2 linked regions of the Homo sapiens genome follow. The gene in region 1 interacts genetically with each later gene. Each region holds a gene or a part of one and is shown on either strand. Other genes may lie near its edges.

Region 1 (3,652 bases):
TTATAGGAATGATGTCAGTGTATGCTCTTCACAGAATTCTCAGAAAAACCAACCATTCACTCAATTTTCAATTAGAGAAAATAATTTAGATTATTTTAGAAAACACCCATTCATTGTCCTGTTTTTCTTTCCTCCAGAATCCCAGCCATTCTTCTCCCCAAAACTTAATCTAAAGCTAAAACTAAACTGTATTAATGGCAACCACCCAAGAATCAAATTGGCTCTATAAATCATACTGCCTAATAGAAGTCAAGATTAAAATAGGGTAGTTAAAACTGAATAAAAACTTCTTACCATTGTATTTTATTATTTCATGTTATAGTTAGAGTTTTTTTTTCTACACTTACTGTCCATCTTCACTCCAGACTGCCATACACTTGTCTCCTACTTTCCATGAATGAGTAGGTTGAGTAGAAGCAAAACTGTCTGAACTTGCAAGCGTCTCAGAAGGTTGAGTTGACAGAAGGTCTTTGGTTAGTTCTATAACTTCCTAAAAAAGAAAAACAAAAACTACAACATTATTTTTATAATTCTCATTGTCAACTTAGTTTCTGATGACAGCCTTCATACTGTACGTTAAGTACTCTACATATATTTCATTTGCAGCTCATAACACTATTAAGCAAGTACTGTGATTATCCCCATGTAGAAACTGATACAGTATTGTCTACCAGTTAAGTGGCAGAGCTGTGACTTAAGCCCATATAGTTGCCTTTCAACTTAACCACAAATACTAATGAAAATATAAGACTTGAGCTTATACCATGCATTATTTCTAAGTGCCTATTTTAGCTGAATAGATCTCTCTAAAGATGAGAAAGTCAAGTATGAGGCACTGAATTAGATACTCTTATTGTAACATATTTTATGCAACTGTACTGTTTTATAGGGCATTACTCAGCAGTATTAACTGCCAAGCAATCCCAAAACACTTTAAGCAGCTTTATTAGTAACAAAAATGTTCCTACTTATACATATCTCGACTAAAATACTACAGGCAATGTAAAAGAAACCAGTGGTCTTCCTATTCAATTATTGTAAAACTCACCCCATCTGGGTAAGCAAATTACCAGGTTAGATTTTAAATGTTCCATACCTTAATGTTAAGCACATTAGCACAGCTTCATTTAAAAGGGGGAAAAAAAGGTAACACACAAAGGCAATGCCTTTCTGTGTGGCAAATATTTTTTTCTAATTCAGGCTTACATTTATTGGCTTCATTCAAAGATGTTTGGTGTAGGGATGGCTAAAAAATTGAGAACAGTACAAGCCGACAGATTCTGCTACCTGTCTACTATATTGTTACTCTAATGAAGATCCACACTATGCATCTTATCTGATCTAAGAACTTGCATAGCTGTTCACCCATTGTTGCATTTAAAACATCATACTGTGTGTTTGGGGAGAAAAATTAACAAAGTTAAACTATGTACTGAGTTTCTTCTAGTTCCCACTGAGGTTTCATAATAGTAATTTTGATTCCAGTAGCCAAGAAAGTTAAATATTACCTCTCTCCTAAAGATTCTAAATCTTCCTGGCTATTTCTGAAAAAACTAATATTTGAGTCTTAAATCTCTTGAAGAAAGGTTAGTTTTATAAATAAATAAATAGAACACTTAGGTTTGATTTAAAAATTTAGTAGGAATAATATCTCTAAGTTTTATTAGTTGCCAACTAGCCATTAATTAGATCTTTTTAATTAGACAGTCCTTTGCAAACAAAGCAAAGAACCTTCCAAATAACTAGATCAAGTAGTACACAACAGAAGAGTAAATTATCTGGTCTTATTTTTAACCACTTTTAGGGGTAGGAATGTAATCCAGTCAGCCTGACTCAAGAGCCCACACAAATCTCTATCATTAAATACTTCCAGATCCACCTAGGGATCATTTAACTTAAGCACAGACATGAATTCTGCACTTGTAGGTTTCAGATTTAGAACTCTATTTCTTTTAGGACAGAACTGTTTTCCAAATATATTTTGTTAAAGAAATATATTTCATCAAAGAAAAGGGTCCTGAAAAGCTGTGCATATTAGTGAATTCAGAGGCCTGTGCTGAAATGACCCTTTTTTAGAAAAAATCCAGAGCATTTACTCCTAATGTCCTTTAACTTTGCCATGGTTTTACATAACCCTCCCAACAAACTATGAAGAACCTTCTAAATTTCTATTCTTCACATGTGCGTATGGACCAAAGTATTAGAAAAACTATTTTATGTATGAGGGGGTTCTTGAAGGTACATACCATTAATTACTTTTCCTCCCTCAAGTCTGAGTTCTGAAACTGCTCCTTCATCGACAGATGGGCAGCAGTTACAGTAATCGGCAATTCCAGGAAGCATCAGGTGTTGTGATCTACATATCAGCAGGTCAAATGGGGTGCACTCAAGCACTCTGCTTACTGAAGGAAGGCGTTTCGGGGATGCAGAGAGCCACTGTAATATATGAGACAAGTGACTTGACCCCTGCCTCCTTTAGAACCAGCTTATTCAGCAAAACAGCCTAATAAATTGACTATCTCTGATTATCATAGACTGCCCGGGGAGCTAGTCAGCTAGCTAGCCTGGATTTTATCACACCCACTTTTTTAAGTGAAAAAAGAAAGGCAGGACTTTAGTAGATTATTTTGCTGCCTGCTGAATAACTTTAGTCTCTATGAAAGACAGTACATGAAAGAGATAAACATGGAAACCTTACTGGCAAAATGAAGTCATTGAAAAGATGCAAAAAAAGCATTTTGTCATAAAACAAAGGGCAAACAAATTAATAACTGGGATAAGGATCTAATTCTATAGAGGAACACAAGAAATTAGAAACCATATGATGGTCAAAAAATATTAATATGAGGAAGCCACAAAATCAGTCTGAACAGACTTTTCACCAAATATAACAAGCTGAATTAAATACCCATAGCATGAGATACATCCCAGAAGGCAGAGAAGGAAAAAGGAGGGGAATGAGGGGGGGAACCCCACAGCAAAATAGAAGCTGTTAAGTGTAGTCTCAATGGAGACAACAATTACTGAGTGGAAGCTTATAGCCAAATACTTTTCAGAGTATTACCTCATCTTAAAAGATGGTTTCCGTTTTTGAGTAGTTTTCAATTCAAAATAGACCTTATCTAGGGACCAAAATGAAATTTCTAATGATAGAATAAAATGGGAAGAAACTCTGATCAAGACTGGTCAGGAAAAACATTCTGTTATTACTATCTGAAGTATTAAAACTTGCACTTCTAAATCCTTGCCATCCAGTATGGTAGTCACGTGTGGCTAATTAAGTTATACTAAAAACTCAGCTCCTAAGTAAACCTAGCTGTATTTCAAATATCCAACCAAATGTGGCTAGTGGCTATGGTACTGAATAGCAGATATAGAACATTTCCATCATCACAGAAAGTTCTACTGGACAGTGCTGTTTTAAATGGTTATAGAAAAGAGGATACTTTACAGAAAAATGATTTCCAGGTCATTATTAACTGAACCCCTGCAAGCAAGCCTTTTAGGGGCTTACTACAGTGTTTATCACAATGGTTTCCCCCTACAGTACTTTCCACTATGATGATCATGACATGGTAAGGCAGTTCTGCTCAGACTCTAATGAGGAATTATTCTAGAAATATTAAAAAGACCTGATGATAATGCTATTTCT
Region 2 (3,652 bases), on another chromosome or scaffold:
AGCCTCCAGAGTAAGTAGGACTATAGGCTAGCCTCCAGAGTAGGTAGGACTATATGCCCAGCTAATCCAGATACCCTTTTTATTAAAAATCTGAAAATCAGGCTGGGACCAGTGGCTCACACCTGTAATTGCAGCACTTTGGGAGGACAAGGTGGGTGGATCATGAGGTCAGGAGTTCGAGACCAGCATGGCCAATATGGTGAAACCCCATCTCTACTAAAAATACAAAAATTAGCTGGGCATGGTGGCGCATGCCTATAGTCCCAGCTACTCGGGAGGCTGAGGCAGAAGAATCACTTGAACCCAGGAGGCGGAGGTTGCAGTAAGCTGAGATCGTGCCACTGCACTCCAGCCTGGGCAACAGAGCAAGACTCTGTCTCAAAAAAAAAAAATCTGAAAATCATTATGGTATGTCATCTACCCTTATTATAATGCTAAAATGATTTCTGATAAAATAGTTCCTAACTCAACTAGAAAACTATAAAGAATGAAAGAATGAGCAGAGTACTCATGATGCCTTTGAGTAAAATCGAAACATCATAGAGCGTGATCTAATTTCCAAATCAATAGGCAGTATTGTAACATTAAAGGAAAGCTATTCCAATCACTTAGAAATACTTGCTAAGTACTGCTTTTTACAGTTATGACAACTGTTTCTATGCATATGAACCAAGCAACCAAATATCTATAACCATGGAAATATCTGATTAGAAATATTTCTAATTTGGGCCGGGCTCGGTGGCTCACGCCTATAATCCCAGCACTTTGGGAGGCCAAGGCAGGCGGATCACCTGAGGTCGGGAGTTCGAGACCAGCCTGACCAATATGGTAAAACCCCATCTCTACTACAATTACAAAAATTAGCCAGGTGTGGTGGCATGCACCTGTAGTTCCAGCTACTCGGAAGGCTGAGGCAGGAGAATCGCTTGAACTCAGGAGGTGGAGGTTGCAGTGAGCCAAGATCATGCCACTCCAGCCTGGGCAACAGAACAAGACTCTGTCTCCCAAAAAAAAAAAAAAAAAAGAGAGAGAAATATTTCTAATTATTGGCCGGGTGCAGTGGCTCACGCCTGTAATCCCAGCACTTTGGGAAGCCAAGGTGGGTAGATCATTTGAGGTCAGGAGTTCGAGACCAGTTTGGCCAACATGGTGACACCCTATCTCTACGAAAAATACAAAAATCAGCCCCTTTTCACAAGATGGCACCAAAAGCTAAGAAGGAAGCTCCTGCCCCTCCTAAAGCCAAAGCAAGGCTCTGAAGGCCAAGAAGGCAGTGTTGAAAGGTGTCCACAGCCACAAAAAAAAGAAGATCCGCGTATCACTAGCCTTCTGGCGGCCCAAGACATTGCGACTCCGGAGGCAGTGCAAATATCTTAAGAGCACCCCCAGGAGAAACAAGCTTGACCACTATGCATCATCAAGTTTCCTCTGACCACTGAGTCTCCATGAAGAAGACAGAAGACACACGCACTTGTGTTCACTGTGAATGTTAAGCCACAGCACCAGAGAAGCTCTATGACACTGATGTGGCCAAGGTCAACACCCTGATTCGGCCTGATGGAGAGAAGGAACATGTTCGACTGGCTCCTGATTACAATGCTTTGGATGTTGCCAACAAAATAGGGATCATCTCAACTGAGTCCAGTTGGCTAATTCTAAATATATGTATATCTTTTCACCATTAAAAAAAAAATTATCAAGGCATGGTGGCGCATGCCTGTAATACCAGCTACTCAGGAGGCTGAGGCAGGAGAATTGCTTGAACCTGTGAGGCGGAGGTTGCAGTGAGCCGAGATCACGCAGCTGCCCTCCAGCCTGGACAACAGAGCGAGACTCCATCTTGAAAAAAAACCTGAAATATTTCTATTGGATTCTGAATACAAAATTTCGCATGGGAGAAATCTTACTTCTTATGCCTGTTACAGTATAATTCCCAAATGTACCATCAGAAAAAAAAAAAAAAACCAACAGCTTATTTTTAAAAGTATACATAGAAATCTTGTTTCTAGGCCGGGTGTGGTGGCTCATGCCTGTAATCCTAGCACTTTGGGAAGCCGAGTCAGGTGGATCACTTGAGGTCAGGAGTTCAAGACCAGCCTGGCCAACATGGTGAAACCCCATCTTTACTAAAATACAAAAATTAGTCAGGCGTAGTGGCACAAGCCTGTAATTCCACCTACTCTGGAAGCTGAGATGGGAGAACTGCTTGAACCTGGGAGGTGGAGGTTGCAGTGAGCTGAGATTGTGCCACTGCACTCCAGCCTGGGCAACAGAGTGAGACTGTCCAAAAAAAAAAAAAAAAATCTTTTTTCTATTCCTATCAACTCTAAACATTTTTACTGACCCACAAACTGGGTCACACCAACTGGTTACACTAACTGATATGTGATCAGTTTCTTTTTTTTTTTTTTTTTTTTTTTTGAGACAGAGTTTTGCTCTTGTTGCCCAGGCTGCAGTGCAATGGCATGATCTTGGCTCAGTACAATCTCTGCCTCCTGGGCTCAAGCGATTTTCCTGCCTCACCCTCCCGAGTAGCTGGGATTACAGGCACAAACCAACACGCCCAGCTATTTTTTGTATTTTTAGTAGGGATGGGGTTTCACCATGTTGACCAAGCTGGTCTCGAACTCCTGACCTCAAATGATCCTCCCACCTCGGCCTCCCAAAGTGCTGGGATTACAGGTGTCAGCCACTGAGCATGGCCATGTGATCAATTTCATTAACTTCTCTAAAAAAAAATTCGTATTTCTTTTTAGAGATGGGGTCTTGATACACTGCCCAGGATGGCCTCAAACTCCTGGGCTCAAGCTATCCTCTTACCTCAGCCTCCTGAGTAGCTAGGACTACAGGTGTGCACCACCACATCTGGCAGTTTCATTAGTTTCTTGATTATCCTTTAGGCATTCCTTTTTGAGAAAATAAGCAAATACAGTTGACTCTTGCACAGCACAAGTTTGAACTGCACGAGTTCACTTGAAAATTTTTTTGGAGATTTGCAACAATTTGAAAAAACTTGCAGATGAACCACATAGCCTAGAAATATGGAAAAAATTAAAAAGGTATGTCATGAATGCATAAAATATATGTAGATACTAGTCTTTTATGATTTACTACCATAAAATACACAAATCCAGGCTGAAACGGGAGAATCGCTTGAACCCGGGAGGCAGAGGTTGCAGTGAGCCGAGATCGCACCACTGTACTCCACCCTGGGTGACAAAGCAAAACTCCCTCTCCAAAAAAAAAAAGTTAAAATTTATCAAAACTTACACACAGAAACACAGACTGTACATGGTGACATTCGCGGTCAAGAGAAATGAAAATAAATGTAAAGATGCAATATTACATAACTGTATAAAATTATAATCCAAACTACAACTGTCACAATTTTGTAGCCACCTATTGCAGTGAACTCAAGTGTTGTATCTGCTTAAAACACAGTAATGCTGATCATCTTGTAAGCAGTTGTCTCACCAGTAAATTGCATATTACAGTAAAAGTGATCACTCATGGTTCCTGCATATTTTTCAGTAATGTCATACCATTAACCTCAAATAGTAACGTGGGACCTATAGGAGGTGCCACTAGTGATGCCTGAAGCACTCCAAAGAAGCAGAGAAAAGTCATGACATTACAAGAAAAAGCTGAATTG

What was found.
Region 2: changes in SMNDC1 (region 1) and CENATAC together harm fitness more than expected from each alone (negative genetic interaction), as found in Homo sapiens cells (one large-scale study listed by BioGRID).

The regions. Positions count from the first base shown.
Region 1 is NC_000010.11:110,298,301-110,301,952, forward strand, and holds part of SMNDC1 (survival of motor neuron-related-splicing factor 30), read right to left. Parts: intron 2,437-3,652; exon of another isoform or gene 2,250-2,436; coding exon of another isoform or gene 2,247-2,249; intron 491-2,246; coding exon 348-490; intron 1-347. UniProt on the Homo sapiens protein: Involved in spliceosome assembly.
Region 2 is NC_000011.10:119,000,994-119,004,645, reverse strand, and holds part of CENATAC (centrosomal AT-AC splicing factor), read right to left. Parts: intron 3,034-3,652; exon of another isoform or gene 2,821-3,033; intron 1,694-2,820; exon of another isoform or gene 1,053-1,693; intron 1-1,052. UniProt on the Homo sapiens protein: Component of the minor spliceosome that promotes splicing of a specific, rare minor intron subtype. Negative regulator of centrosome duplication.